Regions from separate parts of the Homo sapiens genome. Here region 1 is linked to region 2. Evidence: fine-mapped expression QTL. A gene starts in region 2. The other region holds a variant in brackets. All regions are shown on one strand. Distances are from middle to middle. Region 1 overlaps TMEM175 (transmembrane protein 175). Region 2 holds the start of IDUA (alpha-L-iduronidase).

What was found.
Region 1: its variant is fine-mapped to the expression of IDUA in sigmoid colon (GTEx, PIP 0.91).

Annotation. Positions count from the first base shown.
Region 1 is chr4:948,964-957,071 of GRCh38, forward strand. TMEM175 (transmembrane protein 175) reads left to right here. Exons shown (of 11, transcript NM_032326.4): 4 at 1,458-1,555; 5 at 2,244-2,295; 6 at 2,719-2,754; 7 at 3,404-3,487; 8 at 4,227-4,391; 9 at 6,442-6,520; 10 at 6,792-6,927. Among named protein-coding and RNA genes, the nearest start is that of DGKQ, 21 kb to the right of the region's middle. The variant C/T (reference allele first, on the strand shown) is at 3,769.
Region 2 is chr4:982,275-990,364 of GRCh38, forward strand. IDUA (alpha-L-iduronidase) reads left to right here and starts at 4,770. Exons shown (of 14, transcript NM_000203.5): 1 at 4,770-4,968; 2 at 5,535-5,675. The coding sequence starts at 4,811. It overlaps SLC26A1 (solute carrier family 26 member 1), which reads right to left. Exons shown (of 3, transcript NM_022042.4): 3 at 5,383-8,088. The coding sequence ends at 6,559. RefSeq lists enhancers at 3,132-3,181, 4,357-4,416, 6,997-7,498, 7,499-7,998 and silencers at 4,627-5,276, 5,059-5,236.

The sequences.
Region 1 (8,108 bases), 33 kb before region 2:
CGGGTGGAGCCTGGCCCAGTCTGCAGGGAGACCCTGGGCACCAGCAGGCAGCAAGCAGCACAGGCACTGGGACCCCAGAGCCGCTCCCGCCCTCCCTAGGGGGGCAGCTGCTCAGGAAAGCTGCGTCCCCACCGAGGCCCATGGGGTGGGCTTGGCCAAATGCAGTCGTGAGGTACTGGCCTTGGCTGCCCCTTTCAGAACGGGGTCGCTGAGGTACGGCCACATCCACCTGTGATGCCCGTGCCAGAGGGCGCATGACAATGAAGGGCCCGGGTGGTTGAAAATAAAAACCTGTGAACCTAAACCTGCTCCGACTTCTCTGCAGCCAGGGCACCTTTCTAGGACTGTGGTGTTTAGTGCCCTGTCTTTTCTCTGTTGTCCTAACTGGGTCACAGGGAGGGTCTGAGTCTCAGAAAGTCCTGGAGAGTCAAAAGCTCATTCAGAGAACACATTTATGTGAAGAGGGAAAGGCCTGACGTGTGTCCCAGGGAAGGTGCTAGAACAGTGGACACCTCCTTGTGAGGAGAGGGGACTCCTGGGGCTGTGCTCACTCTGATGAAAAATAAAAGACAGTTGTAACTTTGAAAACCCATGATTCGAAAAGCTAAATGGGACTCAATTAAGAAGTGACTGAAACACTAAGTTATTGACCCAGAGACCTGCCTGCAAGTGAAGAACCAAGGGAGACAGTAAAGTGCTCAGTGTTCTGTTGGGAGCGTTCGTGGAGAAAGCATGAAAACCTTCCCAGGGCTGGAGGGCGAGGGCCCCGGTGCCTCCACGCCCACCGCGGCCCCCAGGGCAGGCTGCCTTCGGGGTCCCTCGCAGCTTCCACAGAGACCCTTTCCCGTGGCTGCTTTGGAATTGCCTACCTAGGCAGTGCCAGGTGTGACCCTTTTGTGCTGTCAACCTGTGTGTCCTTCCGAAGTCCGCATGCCGGACGCCTCACAGGGATGGCGTTGTGAGGCAGAGCCTTTCGGTGGTGACCCGGTTATGATGGCAGAGCCTCATGAATGACATTCGTGACCTGGTGCTTTTGCCCTCCTGTCCCCTCCCACATGCGGATACACAGAGGGTACCATCCCTGAGGCGGAGTCCACAGCAGACACCGAGCCCATTAAGAGCTGACCCCCCAGCAGGAACACAGCCCATAGAACACTCTGGAGTACACCTGTGGGTGTGGGCATGGATCAGCGCCCTGGAGAAGGGGTGGGGGCTGGAGGGGTGGGGGCTGCAGGTGCCAGGGGAGACAGACCAGCTGGAGACGGAGGCTGGACCCAGACCAGGGCACTCAGGGTCTGCTGGGGAGGCCAGGACCCTCCCAGGTGCCTCACAGGACCCACCCGAGGGTTTCGCCCTGCCCTGGGCCGAGGCCAGCCCCCCCTCACGGTGCTGTCTCGACTGCCATTCAGGGACACTCATGTCACCTGGGCTCTGACAGCAGTGCTCTTGTATTCCAGCAGTTCGACAGAAGTGTACAGAGGCTTCTGGCAACACGGATTGCCGTCTACCTGATGACCTTTCTCATCGTGACAGTGGCCTGGGCAGCACACACAAGGTGGGGGCCCGGGCGCTTCCAGCGGTCCATAGCTGCTCTCAAGGTTCCCGTACCCCGCACCACATCACGCACGGGTCCATGGGGTCGGGGAGGACAGCAGGCTACTCCTCCCACCCTCATCCGCGTGGGGATGGCAGGACTTACCCCAAACCCAGGGCCTGGGACAGTGTGGATGGTGCAGTAGGCGGAGGTGTGGACGGTGCAGTAGGTGGAGGTGTGGATGGTGCAATAGGTGGAGGTGTGGACGGTGTGGATGGTGCAGTAGGCGGAGGTGTGGATGGTGTGGATGGTGCAATAGGTGGAGGTGTGGATGGTGTGGATGGTGCAGTAGGCGGAGGTGTGGACGGTGCAGTAGGTGGAGGTGTGGATGGTGCAATAGGTGGAGGTGTGGATGGTGTGGATGGTGTGGATGGTGCAATAGGTGGAGGTGTGGATGGTGTGGATGGTGCAGTAGGCGGAGGTGTGGGCGGTGCGGATGGTGCAGGGTGTGGATGGGAGCAGGGTGCTTTCTAGGGAACTTCATTTCCTTCGTGTTTTCCAAACTCCGTGCACTAGGTAGTAGTTTATATTTGGTTAACAGTGACATCTTTTAATGATGTTTTAACCAGAAGATGCTGGAAAGAGTGTGTGTGCATTTAATGTTACTACAACCGCGTTTTATTGTCTATCTTTTTCTTAAATGGTTTAGGTTGTTCCAAGTTGTTGGGAAAACAGACGACACACTTGCCCTGCTCAACCTGGTGAGTATTTTCCGGTCCTTTTCTGGGGAGTGACTCTGGTCTGTAATCTGACCCTCAGGGAAGAGGGGAAGGGAGCAGCCGGCCTCTCTCGTGACCTCCAGGGAGTCTCGGAGCCTGGAATCTGTCCACAGCTGGGAGCTCCTTGAATGATCTTTCCCTCCCCATGGGTCGCCAGCCTATATCTCCTCCCAGACACAGCCAGGGTGTGGGGGACCAGGGGCACTGGGTTGGGCACAGGTGTAGGGGACAGAGAGGATGAGTGCCCCCATCTGGCCCTGCAGGGTCTGGGGGCTGGACTCACACTCGCTGGCCCACCCTTCTTGGGGAGGGCCCAGCCCTGTGCCTTCCCGGAGTGGGCTCTGTCCATTCCCCTGCCCTTCTCCCCAGGCCGCATCATGGCTGTGATGCCCTCCCTCCCTCCAGGCCTGCATGATGACCATCACCTTCCTGCCTTACACGGTGAGCAACACCAGGCCCCTGACACCCTGAGGCTTTGCTGGGCACCACTGGATTTGACCTGTCCTCAAAAGCAGACCAGCTGGATGGCCCAGGGCCCAGGCCACACGGTTGTAGAGAAGAGAGAAGGTTCTGGGGAGAGCCAGCTGTTGGGCTGTTGGGGGCTTCTTTCAGGCTGGCGGGGAGGGGAGGCAGTGGCCCCGATGAGGGAGTCACCGGCGCTCCCAGCTCCCACCCGGCCCTGAGCCCACAGCCCCCTGCCCATCCCAGGCCTGTCCCTGGCGTGCAGCCCCTACAGCCTCCGACCACCCGCCCTGTACTACTCAGGCTGTGAAAGTGCCTCCAAATTCTGGCAGTGGCCGCTAGTCTGAGTGTGCGGGGCTGTGTGCCACAAGGAACTGGGGTCTGGGGAATTCCGTATGAATCGGATGACATTTTGGCTTTAAAGGCCTGAGACATCTGGTGGAGTTGGTTGGGGTGGGGGCAGTTTGGACACATGCCCCCCAGCACCCAGCTGGCGCCATCCTGTGATGGCCCCACCGCATCTCCCAGCGTCCCGTGGAGTGGGGAGGCTCACCATGGCCCAGTTCCAGGCTCTGGGGCCTGGTAACCTAGGATTTGGGGGGGTTTGGTTTTGTTTTTGTTTTAACAGTTTTCGTTAATGGTGACCTTCCCTGATGTGCCTCTGGGCATCTTCTTGTTCTGTGTGTGTGTGATCGCCATTGGGGTCGTGCAGGTAGGGGGCCTGGGGGGCCTGCACTGTGTGTGTGTGTGTGTGTGTGTGTGTGTGTGTGTGTGTGTGTGATCACCATCGGGGTCGTGCAGGTAGGGGGCCCAGGGGGCCTGCACTGTGTGTGTGTGTGTGTGTGTGTGTGTGTTCACCATCAGCCCTCTTGGGGCCTGGGGTCCTGTGCTGTGTGTGTGTGTGTGTGTGTGTGTGTGTGTTCACCATCAGTGCTCTTGGGGCCCGGGGTCCTGTGCTCTGTGTGTGTGTGTGCGTGTGTGTTCACCATCAGC[C/T]CTCTTGGGGCCCGGGGCCCTGTGCTGTGTGTGTGTGTGTGCTGTATGTGTGTGTGTATATGTGTGAGTGATCGATTGCCGTCAGGTCACACAGGTAGGGTTCCTGAGGCCACCTACACACATAGGATGTGGCATGCCCAGAGTCCCCGCTTTCTGACCAGAGACTGGGAAGAGTGGGCCCTGAGACCCCCCACATGCGGCCCCAGGAGCCAGCAGGGGCTCCTGTTCTCTCTCCACCTCAGCCCCTGTGCCCAAAGTGTCCCAGGTACAAGCCCACCTCTACTCGCCAGGTCCTCCCCCACCCCAAGACCCCTGTGCGCGCGTGCCATGCAGCCCGGGGCCAGGTCCTCCCCACCTCGAGACCCTTGCGTGCGTGTGCCATGCAGCCCGGGGGTTGACTGCTGTGGGGGCCCCCTCTGCTCTTGGGGCCTGTGTCCTACAGCTTGCTTTTCCCGCAGGCACTGATTGTGGGGTACGCATTCCACTTCCCGCACCTGCTGAGCCCGCAGATCCAGCGCTCTGCCCACAGGGCTCTGTACCGACGACACGTCCTGGGCATCGTCCTCCAAGGCCCGGCCCTGTGCTTTGCAGCGGCCATCTTCTCTCTCTTCTTTGTCCCCTTGGTGAGTGCTGGGACAGCCCGTGGGGCCCAGGCAGGAACGGGGGCCACCATAGGAGCAATGTCCCCGCTGAGCAACAAACACGGGGGTGGGGGCAGAGCGCAGACAGGCAGGGGTTCCACCCAGGGTCTTGTGTGTGAGGCCCAGGGCTGCAGTGAGTGGCACCAGGGAGGGAGGCCTGCTCCACCTGAGGCCCCGAGACCCAGCCTGTCGAGGACAGAGACGGACGCTCATCGAAGGAAGGGGCAGCTGAGTGTCCTTCTCAGAGAAGCTTCACGATGACGATGACCAGAAACAGCGACACCCGGAATCCGGGGGTGCATGCGTTTTCTTGTTTTGTTTTTTGTTCATTGAGGCAAGATCTCGCTGTGTCACCCAGGCCGGAGGGCAGTGGTGTGATCTTGGCTCACCACAGCCTCGACCTCCCGGGCTCAAGTGATTCTCTCACCTCAGCCTCCCAAGTAGCTGGGACTACAGGTGTGCACCACCACACCTGGGTAGTTTTGGTATTTTTTGTGGAGACAGAGTCTTGCTATATTGCCCAGGTTAGTCTGGAATGCCTGGACTAAAGTGATCCTCCCGCCTTAGCCTCCCAAAGTGCTGGATTACAGTGTGAGCCACCACGCCAGCCTTTATTTTCTTTTTTTCTTTTTTTTTTCTTGAGACGGAGTTTTGCTGCCAGGCTGGAGTGCACTGGCGCAATCTCGGCTCATTGCAACCTCTGCCTCCCAGGTTCAAGCAATTCTCCTGCCTCAGCCTCCTGAGTAGCCGGGATTACAGGTGCCTGCCACCACCCTCAGCTAAGTTTTGTATTTTTAGTAGACACGGGGTTTCACCATGTTGGCCAGGCTGGTCTCGAACTCCTGACCTTGTGATCCACCCACCTCAGCCTCCCAAAGTGCTGGGATTGCAGGCATGAGCCACTGCGTCCAGCCTATTTTCTTTTGGATAAGGAATCTATACAAAACTGTGTCAGGACAGTAAACATCAAACAGTGTTTGGAGGAGGAGCCCCTGGGGATAAGACCAGTATCTGCTCATGGGGACATCAGCTGTTGGTGCTTGGAGAATGTGAGCCACTAGGGAGAGGGAGAAGGCAACAAAAGCACTGCTGGAGACGTGTAGGTGTCGTGAGTGGCGCCGCTGTGAGCACTGCTGGAGACGTGTAGCTGCCGTGAGTGGCGCCGGTGTGAGCATTGTTGCGTGTGGAGCCACTGTGGGCATTGCTGGAGTGATGCCTCTCTGAGCATTGCTGGACACGTGTCTCTTCAGATCTGTCTTCTCAGGCTGTTGGTGTGTGTGCCCACAGTGAGTTTCTGGGTCATTTGGTGATTCTGTTTAATTTTTTAAGTTTAATTTTTTGAGGAACCACCAAACTTCCACAGCAGCTGCAGCATTTTACATTCCCACCAGCAGCACATGGTGGTTCCAGTTTGTCCACATCCTCATCAACACCTGCTGTTTTTCAGTTCTCTCCATCCTAGTGGATATGAAGAATCTCGTTGTGGTTTTGATCTGCGAGAGGTCGACCATTTGCATGTTTTGTTTGGAGCAATGTCTGTTCTCATCCTTTGCCCATTTTTAATTGGGTCGTCCTTTTATTTTTGAGTTGTAAGAATTTCAGATAGGGAGATAGACGATAAATTTTAAGACACGGTCTTGCTCTGTCACCCAGGCTGGAGTGCAGTGAGCTGGGTCACCTCTCACTGCAACTCCTGTCTCCCAGGTTCAACAGGCACACACAGTCACACCTGACTAATTTTTTATTTTTCGTAGAGATACAGTCTTACTATGTTGCCCAGGCTGGTCTCGAACTCTTGGGCCCAAGCGATCCACCTGCCTCAGCCCCACAAAGTGCTGGGATTACAGGCATGAGCCACTGTGCTGGCTTAAGAATCCTTTACACTTTTTGGGTACTAGGCCCCATCAGATACATGATCTGCAAAGACCCTCCCTTCTGCCGCAGCCCCTGCTTTGGCACACAGCTTTGTGTGGGTAAGGCCTGGCCTCGGACCCCTGTGGAGGGCACTGACCTGCGGTTTGTCTCCCTGCAGTCTTACCTGCTGATGGTGACTGTCATCCTCCTCCCCTATGTCAGCAAGGTCACCGGCTGGTGCAGAGACAGGCTCCTGGGTAGGTGATGACTGGGTGGGCTGGCCTGAGAGGCCTGTAGTCCGCCCACCTCCGTGCGGCTGCTCCGCACTGAGGGCTGTCCGTGGGCCGAGGCCCGTGTGCGTGGTGGTGGCTGGGGCTCCCCCACTCCGCCCCTCGGGCGTCCCTGTCCTGTCTCCTCTCCTGGCCTGCACATTCCAGGCCTCTTCATGGATGAGGGCGGTGACAGCCACGCGGGCTCTACCTCCACATGGGGGGTTTGGCCAGCTCCACCCTCCTGGCGTGTCCCCAGGCCACAGGGAGCCCTCGGCTCACCCAGTGGAAGTCTTCTCGTTTGACCTCCACGAGCCACTCAGCAAGGAGCGCGTGGAAGCCTTCAGCGACGGAGTCTACGCCATCGTGGCCACGCTTCTCATCCTGGACATCTGGTGAGGACCCCGCGTCACCTGCCCCAGCTATCAGGTGGCCAATGTGTCTTGAGTCCCTGGCGTCTCATCCTGGAAACCCCAGAAAGGCACAGGGGTCTTGGCTCCACCCTCCTCTGGATGCCTAGAGTTTTGTGTGAGGTCAGGGCAGCCCCCACTTCAGGGAGGACAACCTTCCCGGCGGCCCCTCCCTTCCCAGCGGCCCCTCCCTTCCCAGCGGCTCCCACCCCAAGCACAGCCGAGGATGGGGTGCCAGGGTGAGGTCAGCACCAGCAGCCAACTGCTCTCCTCACTCCTCTCAGAGGGGCTCAGCAGCCATGGGTATCCCCCTGCCCCAGGCCTCACCCCTGCCCCAACACCAGCCCCTCCTAGTCCCTAGTCCCTCCCATTCCCTCCGGCTCCCTCCCAGTGCCCCCCATCGCTTCGCAGCCCCTCCTGCTCCCTTTGGCTGGCTGTTGCTTCCTTCCAGCGTCTGCTCCTCCGCGGCCTCATCTGCCTCTTCGTCTGTTAGAGCGCGCGTCTCGTCTCAGTCGTCACGTTTTTGGTTTTTGTGGGGTTTTTTTTTTTTTTTTTTTGAGACAGTCCTGCTGTGTCGCCCAGGCTGGAGTATAGTGGCTCAAGCTCAGCTCACTGCAACCTCCGCCTCCCAGGTTCAAGCAATTCTCCTGCCTCAGCCTCCCAAGTAGTTGGGATTACAAGCACCCACCACCATGCCCAGCTAACTTTTTGCATTTTTAATAGAGATGAGGTTTCACCAAGTTGGCCAGGCTGGTCTTGAACTCCTGACCTCAGGTGATCTGCCCACCTCGGCCTCCCAAAGTGCTGGGATTACAGGTGTAAGCCACCGTGCCCGGCCATCGTAATGTTTGAATTTGCTTTTTTACATCTTCCATCCTTTTGGAGTGTCTTGTTCCCTCGTCATAGTTCAGCACTGTGACCACCTTGGGGTTAGACACTATGGTTTTATATCCTGTACTTGATATTCTCGAGTCCAAGTCTCCTGATGCTCTTCTCTGCTGTCGTGTGCATTTTTAAAAACGGGAAGCAAACGTTCATTGGCATCTGATCTCTAAGGCCCAGGTGCCAGGGATGCTCCAGGGTGAGCTGCCTGATTGTGCAGGCCAGCTGAGGCTCCCCTTGGGAGGGACCTGCCGAAGAGAGGCAGCAGCGTGGGGCCGGGACAG
Region 2 (8,090 bases):
AGAGGCCTCTCTAGGCAGGATGGAGGCAAAGCTGCCCCTTGCTGTCTTCCATCTGTGGGAGGGGGCGGCTTCCCCTGTCCTCGGTGGCTTGCCGGATGCCAAGTGTGGGAGGAGGTCACCTCCCGTAAACCCCTGGGCTGCCTGGCAAGCCCTGTGGGACCCTCTGAGCGAAGAGAAATGGGTGCGTGCGTGAGGGTACGGTGCTGCTGGCCACACTGCTGGGGAGCCCGGTGGACGGCTGCTGCTCCACCCCTGCCCGGACGCCCCCAGTGAAAGGCGGACCTGGAAGCAATGTGCCAGGCGTGGTCTCAGCCCTGAGGGCCTCCGCCGACCAGTGGCTTCTTCCCCACGTTTATTATAAGCCACTGGGCCATTGCCCAAAAGGTGTCCCCTGCAGGGTAGAGACCTGTGTGAATCTCTTGCCTCACAGAGCCCCAAAATCTAAATCGGAATCGCACACGTCTCTACACACAGCAAGGCCTTCCTCCTGGCCTGTCGTGGCCGGGTCCGTGTGTCTCCCCACACCTCACTGAAATAAACCCTGGGGACACATTTTAGAACAATCTTTCAATCTCTCCTGAGGCCGTTACAGCCTCCTCTGTGTCAAACCCCCCTCCGTCTCCCCTGTATAGGAACACTGGGATTACACTCAGGGCCCACTCGGATAACTAGAATCATCTCTACGTCTTGGATGCTTCACGGAACCATGCCTGCAGGCGCTCGCCATGTGAGGCGACAGGCGCGGGCCTGGACAGGACGGAGGGCGTCTTCAGGAGGCTCTCCTCCCCTCTCACTTCACTTTTCCCATACAGCACCTGTGCCACTCTTGCTGTAAATCCTAATTCCCCAGAAATATGTGAAACCCTGTAACATGATTGTTTTATGCGGTTACGATTCATTAGGTTTATACACAATATACCGTTTCTGTTGCTTTTGTTGGGGTTCAGAAAATGTCACCCAGAGTGAAGGCCTTGGAAGCCAGGCCTTCTCCTGCCTCCTGTCTCTGGCCCCTCATTGTCCCAGGCAGGTCGTAGAAACCTAAGCCCCTTTTCCCCAAAGCCAGCCATAAACCTAAAAGTATGACTCTAATAACTTTTCTCTGTCTTTCTGTGTAAAAACTGGCCATAAAGGAATTCTCTGGCCTGCCTTGTTTGACTGTATGTGGTCAGACCCCTATTCCGGGGCGTTGTGCCCCCACCCAGCAGGAGGGAGAGCTGCAGAGAGAGGCCTCCAGGAACCGAAGCAGATGGGCCTCGCTGGGCTCCCCCAGGAGTCTGTTAGCCTGTCAGGTCTTAACCTTTCGTCCAATCCTATTTCCAGATTCACAGAACCTGAGTATAAAAATGTGGTTTCCCCTGCGCCTTTAGGTCTTTGCTCTGAAAGCTGCTGTGTCACATAAAACTACAATCCAAGAAATCTGTGTACCCTTTTAGTGAAACTTCAGAAAGGCAGGGGAGGTTTTCCCTTCCCCCCGCACTCTTCACTTCTTCCTCTGCACCTCTGAGCTGGGATTTGGGACATCATTCTTTCTACTTGAAGAACACCATTTAATTTTGTCTTTTCTTTTTGAAACAGGGTCTCACTCTGTTGCCCAGGCTGGAGTGCAGTGACGTGATCTTGGTTCACTGCAGCCTCTGCCTCCCAGGTTAAAGCAATTCTCCTGCCTCAGCCTCCTGAGTAGCTGGGATTACAGACGCATGCCACCACGCCCGGCTAATTTTTGTATTTTTGGTAGAGACAGGGTTTCACCATGTTGGCCAGGCTGGTCTCGAACTCCTGACCTCAGGTGATCTGCCCGCCTCAGCCTCCCAAAGTGCTGGGATTACAGGCATGAGCCACCTTGCTCAGCCTAGTTGGATTTAATTTGCTGTTAAACCAATTCGTTATCAGCTTTACTGAGATATGATTTACATACAATAAAATGAAGCAAGTTCAAGTGTATCATTCAATAAATTTTTACTAAGTTTCATGAGGTTTTAATATTTTTTTCAATGTTTTCATTTTGAAAAATTTCAAACTCACAGAAAAGTTGCAATAACAGTATATAGTTTTCACCCAGGTTCACCAACTGTTAATATTTTGCTACCTTTGCTTTTATCTCAGTCTCTGTATGTAATCTAAATTTATTGTTTTGCTTTAATTTCCAGAGCAACTTTGGTTACAAATCTATTGATTCTTCACCTCTAAACCCTTCAGCATGGATCACAAATGAACAAAAAATCTCCATTCACAACCGTGATGCAATCATTGAGTCGTTTAATAATTCTGGAGTTTGACCCAGCGCGGTGGCTCATGCCTATAATCCCAGCACTTTGGGAGGCCGAGACAGGTGGATCATTCGAGGTCAGGAGGTCGAGACCAGCCTGGCCAGGATGGTAAAACGCTGTCTCTACTGAAAATACAAAAATTGGCTGGGCGTGGTGGCTCATGCCTGTAATCCCAGCTACTCAGGAGGCTGAGGCAGAGGTTGCAATGAGCTGAGATCGCACCACTGCACTCCAGCCTGGACAACAGAGTGAGACTTCGTTTAAAAAAACAAAAAACAAAAACAAAAAAAATTCTGGAGTTTATCATTGGTAGAATTTTGTTGCACAATGTACAAGGCATATTCCAAATTGTGAATGTCCCCATCATGCACTTTGTAATAATTTTTCCTGACCCGGATCCATTCCAGCACCGTGCAGTGAGGACTTCTGTCTGTTTTTGTTTTGTTTTACCTTCCTCCAGGGAAGGTGTACTTTTCTGTCCACAGGTGTCCCGGTGAGCGGCTCACCTTAATTCTCTCAGGGCTTGAGGTGATTTAAGGCTGGCTTCAGTCCCCACAAAGACAATTCTGTTGCTGGTTTACCTTTGCTTTTAGGGGATAGAACTTTGGGGTCCCAAGAAAAACCCAAAGTCTTTACCAGGCCCCCCGCCTGAGCCTCGACTTCTGTCCTGTGGCCACAGTGTGAGGAACGAACGCAGCAGCGTGTCGCCATGTCTTGTGTGGCTGGGATACGCTGCAGGGGTGTGGAGTCGCCGCCCCAAAGCGGGCCCCGCCCCCTCCCGGCTTGTCCCTGCAGAGCCCCGAGGCCTCAGAGGCTCCTCAGAGCTCCCAGTGCCCTGGACGGTTCCGTTCAGCGCTCTCCAGTTCTGATGGTTGCTCTCAGGAGGCGGCTGGTCTGAAACAATTCAGTTTCCATTGCTGTGTCCTGCACCACGGTGTGGGACTGGTGGTTTCTTACTGTTTTTCTCAGTTCTCTGACGCTTTGAGGAATTGTTTTTAAAGCGAGTTATCCATCATTTTAGTTGTTTTCTCTGGGGTCGTTGGACTGAGGGTCTTACCCCGCTGTTCCTGGAGACAGTTCTGTACTTGCATGGTTTCTCTCGCCTTTCCCTCCCTTTCTTACTTTTTAGTTTCTTAATGAATTTTTTTGTATTATGTTTTTCCTCCTTGCTAATTTGGAATATATACACACTATTTCACTTTTAAATGGCTAATCACTTTTAATGCAATTTCAACATAAGAAGACCTAATGTTAAGCAATATTTTAACCCCTCTCCCCAAAATAAAAAGACCCAGAACACTGTAACTCTAATTATCCTTCTCCCAACTTAGAGAGGATTATTGTCCAGTATTTTCGTTTTGTTAGTAGACTGTTCTTTTTTTCTTTTCTTTTTTTAGAGATGGGGTCTCATTTTGTCAACCAGGCTGGAATGTAGTGGTGTGATCATGGCCCGTCTCAGCCTTGAACTCCTAAGCTCAAGCAATCTCCCACCTCAATTTCGTGGGTAGCTGGGCCTCACAGGCATATACCATCGCATCTGGCTAAATTTTTTTTTTGTACAGATGGGGTCTTGGTACATCTCCCAGGCCGATTTCAAACTCCAGGCCTCAAGTGATCCTCCCGTGTTGGCCTGCAATTCCAAAGTGCTGGGATTGCAGGTGTGAGCCACCGCACCAAGCCTGTTCTTTCCATTATTATTTTTATACAATGTTTGCTTGGATTCACACATGCATACATGGACTACACATGTACTACAGTTGTCCCATGGTATCCTCGGGGTATTGGTTCCAGGACCCTCCCAGATACCAAAATTTGCAGGTGCTCAAGTACTTGATATAAAATGGCACAGTATTTGCACATTACCTACGCACATCCTACTGTGTAGTTTAAATCAAGATTACTTATAGTCCCTAAAACAATGTAAATGCTCTGTAAATAGCTGTTATACTGTATTGTTTTAAAATATGTATTATTTCGTATTGCTTTGGCTTTAAAACAATATTTTCAGTCTGCTTGGTTGAATCCATGGATCTGAAGCCAAGTGTAAGGAGGGCCCAGTGTGCTCTTCTGGGGTAATTCTCCTTCCTGCTAAAGCGCACGCTTTACTCAGGAGGCTGGGGTGAGAAAATCGCTGAAGCCCCGGAGATGGAGGTTGCAGTGAGCTGAGATCGCGCCACTGCACCTCAGCCTGGGCGACAAAGCAAGACTCTGTCTCAAAAACACACAAAAACAGAGAAAAACAAGACAGTAATGGCTCAACTCACATAGCACCAACGGGCGAAGCGTTCTTCTGAGCGCTTTCCGAGTCATCGGTCCTCAGAGCAGCCCCTGAGGCCCGCAAGGAAGCGGGGCTCCAAGCCCTGCCGTGCTCCCGGCTCCCCGAGGCTCCCCGAGGCCACCCAACCCCTCCCACCCGGCCATCGCCCCCTCACCAAGGCCCCGCCCCGCGGCGGCGGTCACATGGGGTGCGCGCCCAGACTCCGACCCGGAGGCGGAACCGGCAGTGCAGCCCGAAGCCCCGCAGTCCCCGAGCACGCGTGGCCATGCGTCCCCTGCGCCCCCGCGCCGCGCTGCTGGCGCTCCTGGCCTCGCTCCTGGCCGCGCCCCCGGTGGCCCCGGCCGAGGCCCCGCACCTGGTGCATGTGGACGCGGCCCGCGCGCTGTGGCCCCTGCGGCGCTTCTGGAGGAGCACAGGCTTCTGGTGAGCGCTCCGCGGCCTCCGGGACCCCCTGGCCGCACGGGGAGAGCTCGGGCGCCCCCTGACTGCGCACTGTGAGAGCTTCAGAGACCGGAGCTCCCTCCTCTGGGGCCCTGGCTCTCCCGGGCCCGCCCCCCGCCGTGTTTGTGGGTGGGTCCTCCACCTGAGTGGGCGCCGGGGCGTGAGCCTGGGCCGCCCCCTGCAGCCCAGGCCGATGCCCGGGATCCTGCTCTTTGAGGTAAACCAGGAGTCTCCCCTGGGAGTGGACGGCCCTGCAGCGGGACCTGGCCTGCCTGTCCCATTCCTTCCACCTAGAGCTGAGGTACCCGCCTTCCTGGCAGGGCCAGGGCCAGGGCTGGCGTTGGCCCCTCGTCTTACTGCTGCTGCCGTTCCCCATGAAGATGGGACCTCCCCACATTCCTGGCCCTAAGGGTCATTTTATTAGTCACTGAACGCACGGGCAGCGCCTGGATCCTGCGCCCGGGCAGTCCTGGGCTTGAACGTGTGTGTCAGCCGCGCTGCCAGCCATGCTGAGGCTCGGGACTGAGCCGCCCCTTTGTTGTCCCCAGCCCCCCGCTGCCACACAGCCAGGCTGACCAGTACGTCCTCAGCTGGGACCAGCAGCTCAACCTCGCCTATGTGGGCGCCGTCCCTCACCGCGGCATCAAGCAGGTCCGGACCCACTGGCTGCTGGAGCTTGTCACCACCAGGTGGGCGGCGGGCAGGGTCTGGGCGTCCCAGAGCCCCTTACAGAGGCACAGATGGGAGGGGAGGGCTGGGGGCTGCTCGGAAGACCCCTTGTTCCCCCACCTCCCGCCGAAGCACCCTGTTGGGGAGAGCGTGTCCTTGCTGGCTGTGCTGGGGTGAGGGCTGTGTGCTGGAGGGAGCCCCTGCATGGGGCACGGTGGGCTTCCTGCAGGTCTCCCTGCAGGCTCAGGGTTGGCTGCGCCGCACCTGGCTCCTGGTGCACCCGTGAGCATCCCTGTGTGTGTCTGCTGGCCAGGCTGGGTAGGGCCACTGCACCTGAGGGCTGAGCTGAGGTCTCATCGGTCACAGCACCCTGGGCCCTGACGCTGGTGCAGGTGGCCACCCTGTGAGGGGGAGGCACGAGGTGTGAGGGGCACTTGGGTGTGTGGGGCCTTCTGGAAACACAGAGACCCTCGTGCACTTGGCCAGAGCCGCTGGCTCCTACCAGCAGGGTGGGCACCGGGCAGGCCTGGGCATAGGGAGTCCTCTTGGCACCTTGGAGGCTGCATGATGGCGGGGGACCCTTGTTCAAATAAGATGTCAACCCTGAGCGTCAGGTCAGGCCCATCCCTCCTGAGCTGAGGGACGGTGCATTGGGGCCCAGCCAGCACTGTGGGCCAGCCTGTCTCGGAGGCAGAGGTTCTTGATTTCTGAGTGTTTGGGTCCTGCGTGTGATCAGAGGGCCTCCTTTCCCAGTTGGGGTTCCCCGGTTTCCCCAGGGCAGCTGTGGCACAAGAGTGCAGCTCTTGGGTGGCTCCTCCCTGGGAAGGGTCTCAGCAGTGGCTTGCAGACGTCTGCTGTGGGTCCCCAGGAGGGAGCAGAGGCTGCTGGGCAGGCCTGGCCCTGCTACAGATGGGCATCGGTGGCCTCCAGCTCCCTGTGGCGGGCTCGTGCTGTCTGCACGGCATCGTGCACACTGAGGAACAGCTGCTCCTCCTCAGCCGTGTCCCCGGGGCCCTCCCCGAGGAAGCCTCCTCTGCTCAGAATGTCTCTCACAGGCGGGCTGCAGCAGGCTAGCAGCAGGCTGATGCCCAGGGCCCCGTAGTCTCGGCGCAGGTCCTGCAGCGTGCTCACACCGGCTGCGTCTAGGAACAGCAGCGGGGCGCAGTCGATGACCACTGTGTGGAAGCCGGCCGCTGCGGGCACCAGCGCAGCCCTGGTGCTAACCGGGCCCAGGTCCTCGCCCTGGGCAGGGCCTCCCTCACCGACCCCCGTCTCTGAGCCCCCCTCCTTCCTCCTGGCAGCCATGCACCCTGCGTCCAGCCCCGTGAGGCTGTAGAGTGACTGCAGGAAGAAGTCCTTGTTGGCATAGTACAGCGGCCCCCCAAAGCGGAACACCCGCACGCCGGGCTCAGGGACGAGGCCCTCGAACTCTGTGGCATCCTCGTAGAAGGCCGTGTCCCCGATGCGGGCCAGCAGGGCGGTGCGTGGGCGTTGGGTGCGGCCGGCCAGGCTGAGCAGCGAGAGGATGACGCCAGCCAGCAGCCCGGCCTCTGTGCTGACCAGCATACAGGTGGCCGCGGTGCCTGCCCAGACCAGCGCGTCAGCCGGGCTCATCCGCCACAGCCGCGGGAGGTCCCACACCTTGCGCAGGGCCCCCCGCAGGCTGACCACGATGACGCAGGCCAGCACGCTTCGCTGTAGGTCGTGGAACAGCGGTGCCAGCGCCAGCAGCACCAGCAGCACCACGGTGGCGCTGACCACGCTGGACAGCTGTGTCCGGCAGCCAGTGGCTGTCTTCACCAGGCTCTTGGCCAGGGCGGCGCTGGTGGCGAAGCAGTGGAGGAAGGCGGGTAGCACGTTGCAGCAGCCCACAGCCAGCAGCTCCTGGTTGGCACGCACAGAGTAGCCGTGACTGCGGGCGAACATCTCCGCCAGCGAGATGGAGAAGGCGGCAGCCACGAGGGCCAGGGCCACGGCATCCAAAGCCACACGCTGCATCAGCCTGGGCTCTGGGACCTGAGGGGGCATGAAACCCGTGGGGATGTCGCCAGCCACGCTCGAGCCAAAGCGCTTGTGGAGCTGCCCGAAGTGCGACACGAGTGTGGCCACCACGATGACCAGCAGCTCCGTGGGCAGCGGCACCCTCAGGCGGTGTCGGTAGCGGTCTGAGAGCTCCTTCGCGGCTAGCAGCACCGCCAGGCACACCGTGCTGGTGACCACGTCGCACACGTTGGCCTGCCCGGCGCCGCGCAGCAGGCTCAGCCATGTGAGGACCACCATGCCGGGCCCCTGGTGCCGCGGGATCCGCACGCCCAGCAGGTGTTTGAGCTGCGAGGTCAGGATGGTCACGGAGGCCCCCATGGCAAAGCCATCGAGCAGTGGCTGTGAGAGGTAGGCGGACACGAAGCCCAGCCGGAGGACGCCCATGAGGACCT